Linked DNA regions of Homo sapiens: regions 1, 2 and 3 are each linked to region 4. Evidence: fine-mapped expression QTL. A gene starts in region 4. Each other region holds a variant in brackets. All regions are shown on one strand. Distances are between the middles of the regions. Region 1 overlaps GXYLT2 (glucoside xylosyltransferase 2). Region 2 overlaps GXYLT2 (glucoside xylosyltransferase 2). Region 3 has its middle 8.9 kb from the start of PPP4R2. Region 4 holds the start of GXYLT2 (glucoside xylosyltransferase 2).

What was found. PIP is the estimated chance that this variant, and not a neighbour inherited with it, causes the effect. A credible set is the group of variants that fine-mapping cannot tell apart.
Region 1: its variant is the best candidate, but not a certain one, in a credible set for the expression of GXYLT2 in esophagus muscle (GTEx, PIP 0.71).
Region 2: its variant is the best candidate, but not a certain one, in a credible set for the expression of GXYLT2 in coronary artery (GTEx, PIP 0.68).
Region 3: its variant is the best candidate, but not a certain one, in a credible set for the expression of GXYLT2 in unexposed skin (GTEx, PIP 0.69).

The regions. Positions count from the first base shown.
Region 1 is chr3:72,972,501-72,977,630 of GRCh38, forward strand. GXYLT2 (glucoside xylosyltransferase 2) reads left to right here. Exons shown (of 7, transcript NM_001080393.2): 7 at 2,477-4,415. The coding sequence ends at 2,659. Among named protein-coding and RNA genes, the nearest start is that of PPP4R2, 22 kb to the right of the region's middle. RefSeq lists an enhancer at 4,902-4,971. The variant A/T (reference allele first, on the strand shown) is at 2,958.
Region 2 is chr3:72,938,653-72,943,803 of GRCh38, forward strand. The region is part of intron 3 of GXYLT2 (glucoside xylosyltransferase 2); the gene reads left to right. Among named protein-coding and RNA genes, the nearest start is that of GXYLT2, 53 kb to the left of the region's middle. The variant A/G (reference allele first, on the strand shown) is at 2,094.
Region 3 is chr3:72,985,359-72,990,509 of GRCh38, forward strand. No RefSeq gene overlaps it. Among named protein-coding and RNA genes, the nearest start is that of PPP4R2, 8.9 kb to the right of the region's middle. The variant C/A (reference allele first, on the strand shown) is at 3,119.
Region 4 is chr3:72,885,284-72,890,434 of GRCh38, forward strand. GXYLT2 (glucoside xylosyltransferase 2) reads left to right here and starts at 2,763. Exons shown (of 7, transcript NM_001080393.2): 1 at 2,763-3,225. The coding sequence starts at 2,951. RefSeq lists silencers at 2,803-3,032, 3,133-3,262.

The DNA.
Region 1 (5,130 bases), 87 kb after region 4:
CGTGGTGGCAGGCACCTGTAATCCCAGCTACTCAGGAGGCTGAGGCAGGAGAATTTCTTGAACCCAGGAAGTGGAAGTTGCAGTGAGCCAAGATCGCACCACTGCAGTCCAGCCTGGGTGACAGAGCAAGACTCTGTCTCGGAAAAAAAAAAAAAAAAAAAGAAGCATATATTCTGGTGGGGGAAGCCAGACAATACTGATTGAGAAAAAGAAAGAAAAATTCAGCCTGGGCGACATAGTGAGATGCGTCTCTACAAAAATTAAAAAAAAAAAAAAAAAATTAGCCTGGTGGCACATGCAGGTAGTCCCAGCTACTGGGTGGGGAGGGGTTGGGGCTGGGGTGGGAAGATCTCTTGAGCTTAGGAGGCCAAGGCTACAGTGAGCTAGGATGGCCCCACTGTACTCCAGCCAGAGCAAGACTTTGCCTCTTTAGGAAAAAAAATAGTAACAACTGGGCGTCATGGCAAGTGCCTGTGGTCCCAGCTAATTGTGAGGCTGAGATGGAGGATCACTTGAGCCCAGGAGTTCAAGGCTGCAGTGAGCCGTGATTGCCCCTCTGTACTCCAGCCTGGGTGACACAGCAAGACCCTATCTCAAAAGAAAAAAAAATCCTCTGAGATAGTGAAAGGTGAAAGGAGTTCAAAAGGTGTAAAAAGAGTGGGCTGATGGGTCCAAAGTCCTGGGCTGGAGAGGAGTGTTCTACCAGCTGGGGGAGGGGCACCAGGGAGGCTGCTTGTAAGTCCTAGACTTATCAGATGGAGGCAGCCCAGGGGAAATCTGGGGAAAATCCCGTGAAACAGAAGGAATGACCAGGGGAAAGTCCCGGAGGCAGGAATGAATTTGGTGTGCTGGAAAGACAGGAATGGCCAGATAAGAGGAGAGAGGAGGAACTGAGAGGGGAGAGTTTCCAGGTCACCTTGAACCTTTAGAACAAGGGAGGAGTTGGAATCTCATTCTAATGGCAGTGGAAAGCCCCTTCGGGAAAGTGATAGGCTCTGATTTATGATTTAGAAATATCACCTTGGTAATGTGGTGGAAGGGATGCAAGAGTGAAAACACAAAGGCTATTTATTTGTGAGACTAATCGCAGCCACCTGGGTGAGCAATGGGGCCAGCATGGGCTTGCGTGGTGGCAGGAAATGGGAAGAAGTCGCCATATTTGGGATATGCTGTTGAGATAGAGTTTACAGGACTTGCTGATGAATTGGATGAGGGTTGTGGGGGGAAAGAGAGGAATTGAGGGTGATTCCAAGGTTTTGACCTATCCTGTTCCCATTACTGGAGCTACAGTGGTGAAAAGGACAGATTCAGGACTGGCTTCAAGGGGTTTATCAATGATTTAAATTTCATGATTAAAGAAAAAGTATCCCAAACCAACCTGGTCTGGGAGAGAACCTTCTTGCATTACATAATGCATAATCTCCTTCCGAGAAGAAACTGGCATCTCTGATAAACCTGTGTAAGCAGTATTTCTGATTAATTTTAAAGGATTAACATTTGTTCTAGGAAACCAGACACCCACCTCTCCTGTTAGGCAAGAGTGTACTGATCTTTAACCATTCTTCTTTCATTTCTCACTAGTCTTTCCATATAAAATGTCCTGACCAAGAGTGGATCTTTGACTTGATCTACTACCAGACTTTTCCCTTTCAACAAGATTGTAATAAAACTTTGATACATGTGCGTAACTAAGTGGTCTGAAAGATTTATTTTGGGTTATACTGCTCATAGACGTATTCCATGAAGAAAACAAAAGAATTTTAAAAAATGGCAGTGATGATCTCAAAAGCCCAATATTAAGAGGGAAATAAACAACCACTAATATTTGGTACCTGAATTATTAAAATCTGGTTTATTGCCAATAAATTTTACTAGTAATTGTTAAACCCTGAACTTCACGAGATTACCATAGACATACCCTAAAGTTTCTTCATTAAGGTCAAAAAAGATGAAGAATTCATTGTTTTGTTGTAGTAGATTTCAAGTGAGTATCTTGAGCCTTCCTTCTACTCAGCGTAAACATGCTATGATATATGGACTTTCCTGTCCTTAGAGACATGCATCATTTTTAGATTGTAAGACCCTTAAGGACCCAAATTTTTTTTTAATTTTATTACTATTCTTTTTTAATGAGATGGGGTCTTGCCATGTTGCTCAGGCTGGTCTCAAACTCCTGGGCTCAAGTGGTCCTCCCACCTCGGCCTCTCAAAGTGCTGGGGTTACAGGTGTAAGCCACCATGCCTAGCCTTTTTCTTTTTAAAGAGGTAAAGAAACTGAGGTTCGGAGAGTTTAAATGATTACCTGGGGTTGCACAGCTGAGACAGGATTTTAAGTTAGATCCTCAAAGGTCTTTTCACTTGTCCAAACCTGTGCCTGTGGGCTTATCGTAATTCCTGTGTCATTTCTTAGTAAAAATGATCTGCATTTAAAATGGCATTTCCGTTACTAAATAAACTTTTTTTTTGTCATCTTTCAGTTTCCCTTTCAAGACAATCTCTTTCAATCCATGTATTACCCCCTTCAGCTGAAGTTTTTGGAGACTGTGCACACTTTATGTGGACGAATCCCGCAAGTTTTTCTGAAGCAAATTGAGAAAACAATGAAAAGGGCTTATGAGAAACACGTCATCATCCATGTTGGCCCCAACCAGATGCACTGAATATTTTGTCTTGTTGCAAGTCAATTAGGTGTCTTGTGACCAAGGAAATACTAATCTCTAAGCTGCCTGGGTCTTTTTGTGTGAATATTTAATGGTGCTCCATGACTGTTGAGTTTTAAAAACCTCGTTAAATTTTGCCAAATCAGTTGCCCCCAAAAGGGAATATGCTTTTCCTTATTTTTTTTTCTAAAATGCTATTTATCTCTAAGGAAAAAAAAAAAAGACTATTACTCATTTAACATTGTTTAAGCAGGTTGAGCTAGCTGTGAAAATAGCTTTTGTGAGCCTTCTAATTCCT[A/T]AACGTCTGAGACCATTTCAGTGGCACCTGAGGTGTTATATTGATCTAGCATTCCTGAGACTCTTTCTATGCAACTGACTCCCCCACACCCGTGTTATAAAAGTAATACACACTTTTGAAACAGAGAGACACACTTGTAGAGCATATGGGTCAAGGGCTCAACATCAAGATTAGATTAGCCATAATCCTATTGACCAGTGGAAAAGATTGTTTCCATTTTAAAGCAGTTCCTTACAACCTTTTTTCTCTACTTTTGCATTTTCCACTCTAACACACATCTAAAACAGGTAATCTCAGTAAAAGCTGGCCTTTTTGCTGAGATTTTTATGTGGGAGACTAAAATATTAGATGAGATGATTATGTGTACAGAATTTTATTTAAAATACATCTGAGAGAATCATTCAGATACTTGGGTAGTGTTAAAGGATGAAGCATGTATCTGGGGGTATTTCTTCTTTTTCTTTCTTTCTTTTTTTTTTTTTTTTTTTTTTTGAGACGGAATCTCACTCTGTAGCCCAGGCTAGAATGCAGTGGCAGGATCTCGGCTCACTGCAGCTTCCACCTCCTGGGTTCAAGTGATTCTCATGCCTCAGCCTCCCCAGTAGCTGGGATTACAAGTGTGTGCCACCACACCCGGCTAATTTTTGTATTTTTAGTAGAGACACGGTTTTACCATGTTGGCCAGGCTGGTCTTGATCTCCAGACCTCAAGTGATCTGCCTGCCTCAGCCTCCCAAAGTGCTGGGATTACAAGTGTGAGCCACTGCACTCAGCCAATCTGGGAGTATTTCTAAAGAAAAAAATTACTTTGATTTGTGGAGGACTAAATCATAATACATTTCTATGCAACAATAGCTTCTGAGAGGAAATTCAGGAATGTTTGTGTTTACCACAGACAAAAACATTTGATCTGTTAATCATCAGTAGCTGTGGTCATCTCTCTTTCTTAAACTCTTGGGCAATGGGTGGAAATCAGAGACCAACTTCAAATTTAATGTGTAAAAAACAAATAGTTCAGCTGCTTCTATTGGTAAGAAAATTCAACTTCCTACCAGCCTTAGAAAGGTCTCTTTAAACAATTTCTTTCCCCCTAGGGTTACCTAGCTGGTCCATACAGGTTTTATCACCTCACTGCAAGGAGGAAGTTGAATATTCTGTTCCCCACGGGGATCTGGCTTAATCCCTAGTTGCTCATATAGTTGGTATCAGCATAGCAATATTTTGCATAATGCTTTATTTTTCTCAAATGACTATTGCATAGATGATCTTGATATTTGCAACAGCCTAGTGGATTTGGTAGGGTCCTGAATCATCTCTATAAGGCAAACAAGGAAATTGTAACACAAAGAAATAAACATATTGAATATAATTGCTATTCTGTAAGACATACAGTCTGTGTAAGATGTATCTTATTTACAGAGACATTTTTGAAAATTAAAATATTAAATACTTTTTGTTATATAGAGACAATGATCTGGAAGTATAAAAAGAAAAATATTATCTTGTTGATGTAAATATGATATCCTTATATATATTAGAATCCAATAAGATATCATGGGCGCAATATTAGCAAAAAAAAGTCAGTCTTACCCTGAAAAAAAAATAGATATGAAAATCTCAGCACTACACAGAAATGTTTAGATGTCAATCAGTTTTGGTATGCAGCATTATTATAGTAGTAACAAATTTAAATCTAAAATTTTAGAGTAATACTTTCCTTCTGATCAGTTGCCCTGTGGTTATTTTTGTTAAGGAAACTACCATTATGACGGGAAACTCTTATTTTTGCTGTTATATTTTGTTTCCTTATTTCACCACTAGAGGTGACATCATTATTTTGTAACTTTAGTACTAGGCTTTCCATTTGTGGTATGGACACGTATGATATGGAGCAATTTTTGAATTGTCTTTCACATAGGGGAAATTGCATCTTATATACCCATAAATTGGGTTTTAGTGAAAGAGCCAGGATGGAACATAATTTCCTAACTTCCATCCTAGTTTCCTTTCTACTTGTTCAGAATGGCCAGTGAAACACACAAATGGCACTCAGATTTGTTGATGGCTCACCAACTCAAAGAGGTTCCTTCTCTCCTTTGATAAGTCCCACAAAAACATCTACTGTAAAGACTTGAAATACAATGCCTTTCTTTTTTATGAGAGCCAAGTTTACC
Region 2 (5,151 bases), 53 kb after region 4:
AAGCAAGCCAAAAGCAAGCATGGAAGCAGATGGAACATCTTAGAGAGCCATTATCTCAGAACATGCCGGAGAAACCAGATACTTTTCAGTTACGCAAGGCCTGTGGAAAACGTCCTGCATGCAGTTCTAACAGTTGGCCACACAGCTGAAATGATGAAATCAAAGACCAAACACAAGTTTAATGAGCCAGAATTTTAGAAGAACCATCTTGAACAAAGCCATCATTGCTTTGCTCAACTCAGAAGCAATCAGAATCTTGTTTGCAAAGACTAAACTGATCAGAAGAGGCTACTTCATTGATTGGTGCATGCCTGAATGCAGCCATGACATTGGTACACCCTGCTCTTTGTTAGAACGTCACAAAAATGAATATGTAAGTTATATGTAATTCCACAAGGGGGCACAATAGAAACAAAAATAAAAATTGATAGGCTTTAATTTTCTCCTGTGCCACCCCATTTTAAGGTAATAATTTAACAAAATGAGCAATCTTAAAATCTCAGATTAAAACAGTGTGGAACACTACTTAAGAATGCATATTTATTTTATTACAAACTCCCAATTATATATATATTTTAAAACAGAAAAGATCATGACCAGCCTGGCCAACATGGTGAAACCCTGTCTCTACTAAAAATACAAAAATTAGCCGGGCGTGGTGGCACCCAGCTACCTGGGAGGCTGAGGCAGGAGAATTATTTGAACCCAGGAGGCAGAGGTTGCAGTGAGCCGAGATCACACCACTGCACTCCAGCCTGGGTGACAGAGCAAGACTTTCAAAAACAACAACAACTACAACAACAAAACAGAAAAGGAAGCATTATATAGCAACATTATTTTCCAAGTATTCATTATTCTCTAAACTATCTTAAACTATTTCAAGAATATCAAAGAGGATACTTGAGAATATGCAGCATCAAACAGAATGTTCTTTGTTGTCTGCACACATAAAATTAAAGGGAAGTATCTCAAAGTAGACAATTAGAAAGTATGGCATGTATAGTATGATTCTATAGGTAGTCTTTTCTTTCCTTTTTTTTTTTTTTAAACATGGGTCTCAGTCTGTCGCCCAGGCTGGAGTGCAGTGGTGCTATCAGAGCTCACTGCAGCCTCAACCTCCCCAGGCTCAGGTGATTCCCTCACCTCAGCCTCCTGAGTAGCTGAGACTACAGGCATGCACCACCACACCTGGCTAATTTTTGTATTTTTTGTAGAGATAAGGTTTTGCCATGTTGCCCAGGCTATTCTTGAACTCCTAGGCTCAAGCAATCCACTCCGCCTGCCTTGGCCTCCCAGAGTGCTAGGATTACAGACTTGAGCCACTGCACTCAGCCAGTATTTTTTAAATGCAAAGAAATGGCCAGGCGCTGTGGCTCACACCTTTAATCCCAGCTACCTGGGAGGCTGAGGCAGGAGGATTGCCTAAGCCCAGGAGGTGGAGGCTGCAATGAGCCATGATTGTGTCACTGTACTCCAGCCTGGGTGACAGAACAAGACCTTACCTCAAAAAAGTAAATAAAATGAAAATGCAAAAATGTATGTGTTCGTGTGTGTTTATAAACATTTACACATACAACCATTTATTCGGTAATATTTATTGAGCCTCAGTTATGTGACTGGCCCTAGAAGTATGACTGTGAATAAGATATCCAAATATCCTAATCTCATGGAGCTTATATCCAAGTCAGAAAAGAATGACAAAAAGCAAGTAAATTAGTTAATTTCAGGCAGTAATAAGAATTACAGAAAAAAGAGTTTAAAGAGTGATGGATTGATTGAGTTGAGATCTGACTTCCTGGCCATATGAAGACCCCATGGAACAGACTGGGATGAGGTTCACTGTTAATGTTGGTTAATTCTGAAGAGAGAGCGGGGGTTGGTTATGGGGGTTTGGAGTGGTGGTGTGGTGAGGATAAGGACAGGTAAAGAGCAACTTGAACTTACTCTGTTGATTGCTGAATTGTTTGTATGTTTTTACAACACACATGCATGAATTTGTGTATTGTGGAATTCAGACAACTCGTGTTTTGTTTGTTTGTTTGTTTCTGAGACAGGGTCTCCCTCTGTCATCCAGGCTAGAGTGCAGTGGTGCA[A/G]TCATGGCTCATTGCAGCCTCCACCTCCTGAGCTCAGAGGACCCTCCTGTCTCAGCCTCCTGAGTAGCTGGAATTACCCACCCAAACTACCACACCTGACTAATTTTTTAATTTTTTGTAAAGATTGGATCTGTATGTTGCCCAGGCTGGAACTGAACTCCTGGCCTCAAGCAATACTCCCACCTCGGTCTCCCAAAGTGCTGGGATTACAGGCATGAGCCACCGCACTGGCCCAATTTTTAAAAATAGTAAACCAGTAAGAAAGAGAAAAAAGACAAAGAGCATCAGAGCTTTACGTAATGTATGCAAGCTATCTGTTCACATTTGCAAAGACATTCGCATGCACCAGAAGTACAGAGCCGTGAAGGTATAGGCCTCTTTCTGACCATGTGTTCTGGGTCTGCATGTATTTACAATTAAGACAAAAAATAAAGGTGGCAATGATAATAGAGAAAAGGGTTATTATATTATCCTGTTTACTCATCTCCCTGCTACATGTGTCTCTATTCTCCTGTTACTACTCCTGCATTTTTGGTTTTTGAATGCTATCCTCATCAGATGGATTCTGGCCCAGAATCCTCCTAGAGTCCCTGTTGCAGAGTCAAGTCCAGGCCTCTGGGCCTGATGTTGAGGGCCCTTTGCATTCTGAGTTTACATACTAACTTTCAGCATTATTCCAAGTCATGAATTTCCCATTCCAGCCACTCTAGTGTGTGTCACTCTTTCCCAGATGCTGTGCACATTACCCTCTGCCATACTGTTGCCTGGAGACAATAACCTGGCCATTCTACGCCCCTACCTCCAGCCTCACTTATTAAAATCACACCTAGTAATCTTAGCCCAACACCCTAGTAATCTAAGCTCAGAATTCTCTTTGCCTTTAACAAATTATTTCTCACAGGCAGACACACACACACATACACACATGCCCGCACAGTCCTGAGATCAGTGTCAATGTGGACTCATGTTTTTTTAAATAAATATATAGGTACAGATAAGTAAAGAAGTAATTATGGATACTCAACATCTGTGAAAAAAAGGAAAAGATAAAAATAAGAAAAAGAAGTAATTATGGATATGTATGTATACATGGGTTTGTATACATACATGTATTTCCTAGCTCTGTCTACTGTTAGGAGGCTAGAAGCAGTGACACCTGAGTAGCAATGAACACACCTAGCACCTAGATATTGGTTTCTGAATTCCATCCTCCAAAGGAACCCAGGGCTCCTGGGAGAACTGTTCATTCCTGGCTGAAGGCAGGGAAAATGCAAGATGCCCCTGGAGTTAACCTTATGGTGCCAGAAGGTAAGGATGTGCTAAAAAATATTTTTTAATAATAAAAATAATTTTTAAAAGGAGGGGGTTCATATTGGAAGAGGTAGGAGCCAACCTGAAAGAGCTCCAAATGACTTGAGCTGGAACAACTTGAGCAACAAAATAAATAATGATAGTATTTAATTATAACACTTAAAATAATTTTTCATAAGTCCACACCAATCTAAATAAATAACTGAATTAAAAAAATAAATACATAACTGAATAAATAAATAAATAAATGGAGAAAAATCACACCTCTTCCTTATAGAAAATTCCAGTTAATACATGTAGAAAGAAGGAGGCAAATAGAAAATCATTGTTAGAGCACCATAGTAATAATTACTGCGGGTAAGATCTACCTGTGAATGCTAAAATTAAGGAGTGAAAGTTTAACCAGAAACATGATATTTGTATGATTTTTAAAGTATCTCCTCCAAAATATTTAGTAAAGAAAAAGGGGAAATCCTTAGTTGACTGTGGAGAATATTGTCAGACTCCACCTTTGCCAAGCAATCAAGACTGATATCACTTGGCCCGGTCAACATCGTATATGCCCAGGCGTGTTTCACCTCTGTTCTTCCCAATAAAGCATAACCTCAATCTAAACATGCGAAAACATCAGACACCCAAATTGAGGGACTTTGTTCTAAATAACCGGCCAGTGTTTTCAAAGCTGTCCAGGTTATAAAAAAAAAAAAAAAGGAAAGGCTGAGAAATTGTTACAGATTGGAGGAGACTAAGGAGATGTGACAAATAAATTCAGTGTTTGGATCTTGGAACTGAAAGAGGAGATTTGTGGAAAAACTGGTGACATCTGAATAAGTTCTTTAGTTTATTTAGTAGTATTTATACCAGGGTTAATTTCTTAGATTTGATTACTGTTCTCTTGTTATGTAAGATGTTAACACAAGAGAAAGCTGAGTGAAGAATATATGGGAACTCTCTGAACTTTTTACACCTCTTCTGTAAATTTAAAATGATCTCACAATAAAAAATTTAAAAACACAGCCAGACACAGTGGGTGAAAATCAGCACAGTCAAGCAGCTTTGACAACACATTTTACCCAAAGAGATGTGTGTTTCAGAAATGATGGATGCTTCAAAAAGGAAAAGGGGGAAAAAGGAGGACAGGGACCTCATATAATTACAGAAATTAAGTATTATCTTGGAATAACTTCTCAAAATGTATTTGGCTTAAGGAAGTGAAAATTTACAAAGATAAAAATGGGTGAATAAATACAATAGAGTACACATAAAGCAATCTTTATTTTAACTGAAAAAATGCAGTAATGGTATCTGTATTTCTCTTTTTCCTTTTTTTTTTTTTTGGAGACAGGGTCTCCCTCTGTTGCCCAGGCTGGAGTGCAGTGGCATGAACATGCCTCACTCTAGACTTGATCTCCTGAGCTCAAGTGATCCTCCCTCCTCAGCCTCCCGAGTAGCTGGGACCACAGGCACGCCCCACCACGCCTGGCTAACTTTTTATTTTTTTGTAGAGATGGGGTTTCACCATGTTGCCCAGGCTGGTCTGGAACTCCTGGCCTCAAGTGATCCTCCTGCCTTGGCCTCCCAAAGTGCTGGGATTACAGGCGTGATTACAGCACCCAGCCTCTTTTTCCTGTTCTTTATTATGATAAATAGAAATCACATAAAATGTACCATTTTAACCATATCTAAGTGTCCAGTTCTGTGGCATTAAGGACAGACACACTGTTGTGCTAAAATGTTTGCATCTTCC
Region 3 (5,151 bases), 100 kb after region 4:
GGAGGATCATGAGGCCAGGAGTTCAAGACCAGCCTGGGCAACATGGCAAGACCCCATATCAAAAAAAAAACACACTTCAATTTGCTGGGAGTGATGGCGCATGCTTGTAGTCCTAGGTACTTGGGAGGCTGAGTCAGGAGGATCACTTGAACCCAGGAGGTCAAGGCTGTAATGAGCTGTAATTGTACCACTATACTCCAGCCTGGGTGAGAGAACAAGACCGTGTCCCTAAAAAAAAAAAGAAAGAGAGAGAATGTATTGATTGAGTCAGTTTATTTACTTATTCATAAAATGACATGGTTAGGTCAGATGAGGTTAAAGTTCCTTTTTGTGTAAATGCTCTCTATTTCCATAATCTGTTTTTTATAGCTCTATAATAGATATTTGTGGGATTTTGGCTGCCTGGAAACCACCCCACTCCTGGTACCAATTTCTTTAGTCATTAAAACTCTTTAAATTGTAAGTGACAGCAAACACAACTCAAACAAGTACAGAGAAAAAAAAAGGTCTTGTGTAAGTGAAAAATCTGGAAATAGCTCTATATTCAAAGGCTCAAAAGATGCCAAGGGAAATGTATCATTTTAACAATGCTTTTTTCATTAATATTTTATTGAAAACCACACATCCTTCTAGGATTCCAGCCATAAAATTTTCATGTCATTTTAATAGAATCATTCCATCTTTGGAAAAATACCTTGTCTCCATGTTCAGATGAAAAATGGTATTGCCAACCTGGGTCAAAATATCAAGAAAATTGTTCTCCTGGTGTTTAACTTAAGACAACTATAATATATCTTTTTCCCCTCATTGAAAACTATCATTAACCAAATAAACCCCTCGTACCAGAAACAATTCAATAATCTAAAATGAATGAATGATTTGGGAGGGGGTGGTTCCTTATCATAAATTTGATCTGTTGGACAAGAGCACTTCAACAATTCCTCAGTTCCACAGTCCCCATAGACTCCTAGAGGTGACAGTCAAAATCATAAATGTTGATGTATCCACTATACTTATATAGGCTCTATGTCATGTATATGCATATAGGCTGTAACTATAAAGAGACACCTGGGAACACCTATGCCTGTCTCATTATGGAGCACTTAGAGTTTATCAAAACAATAGCATTTCTTTTTTCAGGATTGCTATTCTGGGTCAAGTGACAATGCAAGTCTAAATATCATATTAGGAAATTGAATTCTTCTAAATTATTGTTATTAGAAAAGATTGCAAGCGGCAAGGCACAGTGGCTCATGCCTGTATCCATCCCAGCATTCTGGGAGGCCAAAGTGGGTGAATCACCTGAAGTCAGGAGTTTAAGAACAGCCTGGCCAGCATGGCAGAATGCCAGTCTCTACTAAAATTACAAAAAAAAAAAAAAAATAGCCAGAAACCATGGCGGGCACCTGTAATCTCAGCTACTCGGGAGGCTGAGGCAGGAGAGTTGCTTTAACCCAGGAGGCGGAGGTTGCAGTGAGCCGAGATCACGCCACTGCACACCAGCCTGGGTGACAGAGCGAAACTCCATCTCAAAAAAAAAAAAAAAAAAGAAAAGAAAAGATTGCAAGCACACAGTTGAAAGAAAAGTAAAAGGACTGATACTAGCTTTTTGTTTGTTTGTTTGTTTTTTGTTTTTTGTTGTTTTTTTTTTTTGAGACGGAGTCTCAGTCTGTCGCCCAAGCTGGAGTGCAGTGGTGTGATCTCGGCTCACTGCAAGCTCCGCCTCCTGGGTTCACGCCATTCTCCTGCCTCAGCCTCCCGAATAGCTGGGACTACAGGCGCCTGCCACCGCGCCAGGCTAAGTTTTCTGTATTTTTAGTAGAGATGGGGTTTCACCGTGTTAGCCAGGATGGTCTCGATCTCCTGACCTCGTGATCCGCCTGCCTCGGCCTCCCAAAGTGCTGGGATTACAGGCTTGAGCCACCGCGCCCGGCCGATAGTAGCGTTTAAAAAAAAATTAAATGTTTAAAACTTGATCACCGTTTATAACAGCTTCTCTGATATTTATTGTTTGTATGTGTATGGAGGTTTTAAAACATAAAACCAATACGTGCTCAAATGAGAGGAAATTCAAATAAAGTCAATAACTAATTAAGAAAATAGTTGGTGTATGGTGTGTCAGAATTTAAGCTTCCTAAGGCTGCCATCTGCCTATTTAGAACCCACAATTTCTGGCACAGAATAGATGACCAGCATAGCATGCCCTGTCTTATTCCCTTAACATACATTATTTCCATGCATGCCAGCTCAAAATTCTGATTCCCAACCTGTGACTCTGCCCGAAGGCTCCCTTCTGCCACTGCAGCCTGCTCCACTTGCCTACAGGCAGGCTCAAAGTATTGGGAAATTAACACCTCTGGGAGTAGTAACAATCACTGACTGACAGGAGTTGGTAGATAAATACCTCAGCTCCTCATCTTCTCTGGAAGGGTAACTCTGGTCTGTTCCAGAATTGCATCCCAGAATTTCCCAGTGTGAAGAAGCTCAAGTTGCCCACAGTAGTAACTTCTTTAATAATATATATTCTTTATTGGCCTTCTTGCCATCCCCATCACACTTCCCCACTCCTGCCAGTGTTTTCTTGGATTTGGCCCCCAAATAGACCACTTGAACTCAAATCTTTGTCTTGTCATTTGCAATTGGTAATTTTTGTTCATGTGAATAAAAAATGGAATTTTGGCCGGGTGCAGATGGCTTACACCTGTAATCCCAGCACTTTGGGATGCCAAGGCAGGAGGATCACCTGAGGTCAGGAGTTTGAGACCAGCCTGGCCAACATGGTGAAACCCCCATCTCTACTAAAAACACAAAAAGTAGCTGAGCGTGGTGGCACGTGCCTGTAATCCCTGCTACTTGGGAGGCTGAGGCAGGAGAATTGCTTGAACCCGGGAGGCAGATGTTGCAGTGAGCCGAGATCCCGCCACTGTACTCCAGCCTGGACAACAGAGTGAAATTCAGTCTCAAAAAAAAAAAAAACTTAAATAATAATACCTATATTGTGTCTAAGTTTACTAACCGTAAGAATAATTATTCTCCTCCCCGCTCTACTCCTTCTTCACGTCTGTTTCTGTTTGTTGTTGTTGTTGTTGTTGTTGTTTTGTTTTTGAGACCAAGTCTC[C/A]CTCTGTTGCCCAGGCTGGAGTGCAGTGGTGTGATCTTGGCTCACTGCAACCTCCACCTCCCAGGTTCAAGCGAGTCTCCTGCCTCAGCTTCCCAAGTAGCTGGGACTGCAGGCGTGAGCCACTATGCCCAGCTAATTTTTGTATTTTTAGTAGAGATGGGGTTTCACCATGTTGGCCAGGCTGGTCTTGAACTCCTGACCTCAGGTGATCTGCCCACCTCGGCCTCCCAAAGTGCTGGGACTACAGGCATGAGCTACTGCACCTGGCCCTTCATCTCTGTTTCTATTTTTATTTTTATTTATTTATTTTTTTGAGATGGAGCTTTGGCTGTGCTGCCCAGGCTGGAGTGCAATGGCACGATCTCAGCTCACTGCAACCTCCGTCTCCTGGGTTCAAGTGATTCTCCTGCCTCAGCCTCCCGAGTAGCTGGGATTACATGTGCTTGCCACTAAGCCTGGCTAGTTTTTGTATTTTTAGAAGAGACAGGGTTTTACCATGTTGGCCAGGCTGGTCTCGAACTCCTGACCTCAAGTGATCCATCCGCCTCAGCCTTCCAAAGTGCTGGGATTACAGGCATGAACCACTGTGCCCGGCCAATCTCTGTTTCTATTTTGGAAAGTTTGAATCAACTCTGCACAAAGTATTTAGAATTTAGCATACTTATATATTCTCTTATTTTTCTCTCATCATTGGATTTTACTAGCTATTATGATGTTACATATTCAAGGTTTATAACATTTCTCCTCCAGTTTGTAGCATGGCTATTACTTTAATTTTATTACAAATGATAACATAGTTGGGTGATTTATTTTTAACTCCAAAAATCCCCCAATGCTTTTATTATCCCTATTTCCCCTTTTAAGGTATGTATTTTAAACGCATTGTATTCTAGTTTTTTTTTTTTTAATTTCTGACTTGTGTTTAGGGAGTCAGTATTTTTGTACAACTCTTTTAAGATACAATTGAAATAGAATAAACTACATATATTGCTTTTTTTTTTTTTTTGAGATGGAGTCTCACTCTGTCGTCCAGGCTGGAGTGCAGTGGTGCGATCTCGGCTCACTGCAAGCTCCGCCTCCTGGGTTCACGCCATTCTCCTGCCTCAGCCTCCCGAGTAGCTGGGACCACAGGCACCCGCCACCACGCCCGGCTAATTTTTTGTATTTTTAGTAAAGACAGGGTTTCACCGTGTTAGCCAGGATGGTCTCGATCTCCTGACCTCGTGATCCGCCTGCCTCGACCTCCCAAAGTGCTGGGATTACAGGTGTGAGCCACTGCGCCCGGCCTCAATTGTTGTATAATAATAATTGTTGCACCATTATGTTTAGCAATTATATACTAAAGTTTTCGGGGGGTTGGGAGTATCTCTTCAGCAACTTACTCTCAAATAGTTCAGGAAAAGAAATGTTCGTAGTGTACTTGCAACTTGTTTGTTTGTTGGTTGGGTTTTGAGATGGAGTCTTGCTCCATCACCCAGCCTGGAGTGCAGTGGCAAGATCTTGGCTCACTGCAACCTCCAGCACCTGGGTTCAAGCAATTCTCCTGCCTCAGCCTCCCGAGTAGCTGGGACTACAGGCATGTGCCACTATGCCTGGTGAATTTTTTGTATTTTTAGTAGAGACGGGGTTTCACCATGTTGGCTAGGTTGGTCTTGAATTCCTGAACTCAAGTGATCTGCCCGCCTCAGCCTCCCGAAGTGCTGGGATTACAGGCTTGAGTCACCACGCCTGGCCTGTACTTGCAACTTTTATGTGAGTTTGAAATCATTTCAAAAGAGAAAGAAAAACCATAAATTATTTTTGTAATTCTTAACCTATGTAAGTATGAACAATACCTAATATTGATTGAGTCAGATCACTGGCTTAATTCTCTCAGCAAACCAATGAGTAAGTCACCACTATTAACTTCAATTTATACATAAGGAAACTGAGGCATTTTGATATTAATCATTTACCTGAATTCAAACAGCTAGGAAGTAATAAGCCAGGAATTAAACTAGATATCTGATTTTAGACCTTTTTCTCTTAATACA
Region 4 (5,151 bases):
ATTAGAAAACACCAGGCCATGGGAGCAGTAACCATCTGATGACTGTTCTTGTGCATCTGGTGTCCAGGGACATGGGCGACGTGCCTCATCTGTGTTAGAGGGTGGAACAGATGTGTTTGGCACTGCATGGGATCTGGTGTTCCTCTTCTCCTGGATTCACATCCCCACCCAAGGCCCTCTTAAGTGTTCTGCCCTAGCCTGGTTCAAGGAGGTCATCCAACTGACTTTATCAAGTGGAATTGGGATATATTTGATATACATTTGCCTAACAACACGGAAAAGGGTTTTCCTCCTTCTTTCCCTGCAAGGGACATCCTACTGCTTTGAACGTCCAAGTATGCCTAGTCATCTTTTAAAATGTAAACGTTTTCAGAGAAATGAGGTTTGCTTTCCTTGTATGTGCTTATTATCTTGACTACCTGAATTGCGAGGGATTTTTATATATTCATATGTTCCAAAGTCAGCAACTCTCCTGTTGGTTCATTATTGAATGTGCTGTAAATGAAGTCTTTTGCAACTAAAATGAGATTTGACCACATCCAAAGAAAAAAAAATTAGAGGATGTAGTTTTCCACCAATCAGAGCAATCCAAACAAATCCAAAAGTTGAGTTTGGACTCAGTGGAAGGAGGCAGATTAGGCTTTTTTTTTTGGCTTCAGTGAGGTTCAAGAAAACTGAGTCCTCTCTTTGGTCCATGATTCTTTGGTGTTTGAGGCTAAAACCCTGGCTACTAATCAAGTGTTACTTTGACTCACTCTGCCTTTGTTTATCCTTGTTGCATCTGTCCTCCTAGAGGTAGAAGGGAGGGGGCAAGACAGAGTTGGGAATGCCTGCTTCTCTGGGCCACATGTCAACAGAGTGGTGGCCATTTCTAAACCTGAAAGATCTAAACATCATGCCTTAGCCTGGCCTAGTGTTTCTCAACAGGGTCCCACATTGGGCCAGGATAGTTTTCGTTGTTGGTATGTCCTGAGCATTGCAGGAGGTTTTGCATATGCTAGTAGAACCTGTCAGCCTTCCCACAATTCCAGATGCTTCCTGGTAGGATGGAACCTTCTCCCTCATCTTTGAGAACTAATGGATTCTTTGCGCTTACTCACCTACAACATGTCCCCCACACTGAACTTGCACCCTGCCATTTCCTAGATGTCTGCTTGGCAAGAGCTTCCAAATTACTAAATATTCTCATCTCTAGAACTTTTAATACAATGGGTTCTCAAGGAATTAAAATAAAATGCTAATATGAGAATAATTCAGAATATAACTAAATTTTAGATTATTTATAAAGCAACATGGAATCTTGTAGAAACTCAGGGACGGGCTGGGCGCGGTGGCTCATGCCTGTAATCCCAGCACTTTGGAAGAACGAGACGGGCGGATCACTTGAGGTCAGGTGTTCAAGACCAGCCTGGCCAACGTGGTGAAACCCCGTCTCTACTAAATATACAAAAATCAGCCGGGTGTGGTGGCGCAGCCTGTAATCCCAGCTACTTGGGAGGCTGAGGCAGGAGAATGGCTTGAACCCGGGAGGCGGAGGCTGCGGTGAGTTAAGATTGCACCATTGCACTCCTGCCTGGGCTACAGAGTGATCCAAAAAAAAAAAAAAAAAAAAAACTGAAAAACTCAGGGACGTTGTTATAACTTAACTAGTGTTCTTTGTTCTGTGGTGTGCTGAAAAGAGAGTTAATGGAGTCCTGGCTGTCAGTTCACCGTGAGTCATAAGAGGATGTGTCCTAATGTTTCAGATTTGTAACTGGGGATCCCCTGGAAGAATCGTCTGGAAATTACGACCTTCATCTGGCGATTGCAGCTGTTAAAGTCTCCAAAGAAGCCATTCTTACATTGTGTTGTGAAATTATTACTCTATCTCAAATCTGTGCCAGAAAGAAAATAAAATGTGTGTTTATGTGTATATTATAAGCTATGTTTTATTGAACTAATCATTACAGAACTTTTATTGGGCACCGACTGTGAGCCAGGCACTGTGCTAGTTTCTTTGAAGGCATTATTTAATTTAATGCTCACAAAACGCCTCTGTAGTGAGCAGTATTGTCATTCCCATTTTGCACGTAAGGAAGTTAAGGCTTAAGAAAGTTGTGCAGCTTCCTCAGGATCACCAAGCCAGTTAAGCACAGTGTCAGATTTCAAATCCAAACTTTGAAATTCATTCTCTAATTTCTTCAGACTACATGGATCGGTTCGGTCCAGTCTAGCTGTCCCAAGTTCTACTTTGGTGTTTTGAGTCTGAAACCCCAACTACTAATCACGTGTTACTTTTACTCGCTTTGCCTTATTTTGCATGTGTCCTTGTTGAATATGTCCTCCTCCAGGAAAAAGGGAGGTGGCAAGACAGAGGCGGCAATAGGGGTTTATTCAACAGATATTTATTGGGCACCACCACCCGCAGATCCCTGCACTGGGCAAACAGGACAGAGATGTTCCTGCCTGAAAGGATGTGTGGATAAGTGCACAAATGTGTGGATAGATGGATAAAATAAATAAGGAGGAAGCACATGGAATACATCAACAAATAAGTGAATCATGGTATGAGAGAATCAGCGGGAACAGTGGATGGCATGGGTGTGTGAGTGAATGGGGAAGTAAACGAACGAACGAACGAATGAATGAATGAAGTGGTTTTGAGTCTGAGCTACCAGAAGCCCGAGAGCCTGGCTGCGGGCGGGCGGAGGGGCGGCTACTCCACACAGTACGGTAGGCGCAGGCTGCTCCTCCTGTAACCCAGCTCTCACCGCCTCCCCCTCCTCTCCTCTCTCTCCTCCTCCTTCGCCGTCGCCGCCGCCGCCGGCCGCCCGCCGGCCGCCACGACCCCAGTCCCCGGCGGGCGGGCGGAGGAGGCGACCGCCGCGCGCTGCTGCACTCATCCTGCCGCCGCCGCGATGCGCAGAGGGGCCGAGCCGCCTGGGGGCCGCCGCCGCCGCCGCGCCGCACCATGAAGCTCCGCAGCAAGGCGGCGGCGCTGCTCTTGCTCGCGCTGGCCGCGCTGCTGCTGGCGCTGCTGTCCCTGCGCGCTGGCCGCGCTGAGCCCCCAGCGCTGCCCGCGCGCCCCGCGTCCGCCCCGCAGCGCCACCCCGCGCCTGTCCCCGCGCGCTGGCCGGGGCCGGGCGCCCTCCCCGGGGCCAGCCCGGGAGTTCGGAGGCGCCGGCCCCCGCGTCCGCGCCCCCGAGCGGGCCGCCGGGGCGCTGCGAGACTGGAGAAGTTGGCGAGGTGAGTCGTGGCAACCCCAGAATCCCATCTGCGGACCCGTGTCTCGCTCCCTACACCCGTGCCAAGTCCAAGGGAGGCTTTGCGCTGGAGAGACAGATTTCCAAGTTTCACCCACGGGCTGCCCACTTCTGTTTCTTAACCCGATAGAAAAGAAGACCCACCTTGGTGGAGTCCCCCTAACAGCTCGGTGTTGATAATCACGTACATTTTTTGAAGTGTCAAGGAAAGTGGTTTCGTACATTACATTTTTTAACTGTCAAGGCAAGGCGTATTTTTGCACTCTTGCAAACATGCACCCTTTGTTTAATTTGTCAAAAGCCATCACGGTGCAAGAATGTTTTATCTAATTCTCATGTTTCACTGGAGAATTTTACCGAAACCTTAGATATGGTTGAGTTGGAAAAGTTAGATGTTTACCAAGGACTGGCAGCCTCTCATTTAACCTCGAGTACCCCCATGCTTAGAACAGAAGGGACACTTGACCTAAGTTTATTAAAAAGAAGTTTTCTCCTTGAAAGGACTGATGCGTGGCACAGAAAAGACAGAGTGGGGGTTTCCAGATCCTCATTCTGTTTCAGGCTCGAGTGTGGTCAAAGGGTCCTCCTACAAGAAAAACAACTTAACCTTCGACCTTCTGTTTGATACTCTCTTTCCCTACACAAAGCCTAACACGCGGAGGCTTTTCATCAGAGAGCTTTATTTTTGGCCTCAGGGTTGCTGGAACGCCCCGCAGGTTAGGGATTTGAGTTCATTTCCTTTGTTGTGGAGGGCTTTTCAACAATCCCCTTGTCTTGTAGCGAGTCTGTTTCATCTGCCCTTTCAAAACTGTTGTTTCTAACTGCCATTGCAACGTCCTTGTTTGCTGGGCTCCTTAATTTCAACCTGAAAGGAGTTGAAAAATTATTTTTGACCATAATGACTAAATCTCTTTGGTGCCTTTACTGTAACTAAAAGACACGAAACCTCAAGAAGTAGCTGTGTCAGCCTTTGTTTCCCTTCTGTCTCAGTACAAATGGGTACTGACAAGTTTTAGGGGGAAAAAACCCCAACAATCTGTCGCTTTAAAGTACTTATAACACTTTACAGCCCTTTCTGGATGTATACAGTCTTTAAGGATATCTTTGTTAGGAAATTAATAGGATTTCCCCTCTTCTATACTGGAGTTTCTTGTAAGAGATTAATTAGGGTTTAACTGCAAGTTTAATATGATTGCTAAGTTTGATGGGACAACTGGTAAGATAATAATAACTGTCATCCTTAACATCGCTAACCTATTGCCAGGGACAGTGCTAACCGCAGTACATACAAATAGTCACAGTTAACACTTAACATATACAACTACATAATCCACACCATAACCTTCCCCCCCACCGCTGTTTTTCTTTTGGTTTTTTTTTTGTTTTTTTTTTTTTTTTGTGACAAAGTCTTCCTCTGTCGCCCAGGCTGGAGTGCCGTGCTGCGATCTCTGCTCACTGCAACCGCTGCCTCCCGGGTTCAGGCCTCCCAGATTCAAGTGATTCTTGTGCCTCAGCCTGCCAGGTAGCTGGCAAACAGGCGTGTGCCACCATGCCCAGCTGATTTTTGTATTTTTAGTAGAGAGACGGGGTTTCACCATATTGGCCAGGAACTCCTGAGCCCAGTGATCCATCTGCCTCAGCCTTTCCCAAAGTGCTAGGATTACAGGCGTGAGCCACCGCGCCGGGCCCAACCATAACCCTTTGACAGTGGTTCTCAAAGTGTGGACTTCAGACCAGTGGCACAGGCATCATCTGGGAACTTGTTAGAAATGCAGATTCCTGGGCCCCACCCCAACCCTACAGAATCAGAAGCTTTGGGGGGTCAGCAACCGTGTTTTAACACGTCCCTCCCATTGTTTCTCATGCACAACAAAGTTTGAGAACCTGCTCTGCAAAGTAAGCACCAATG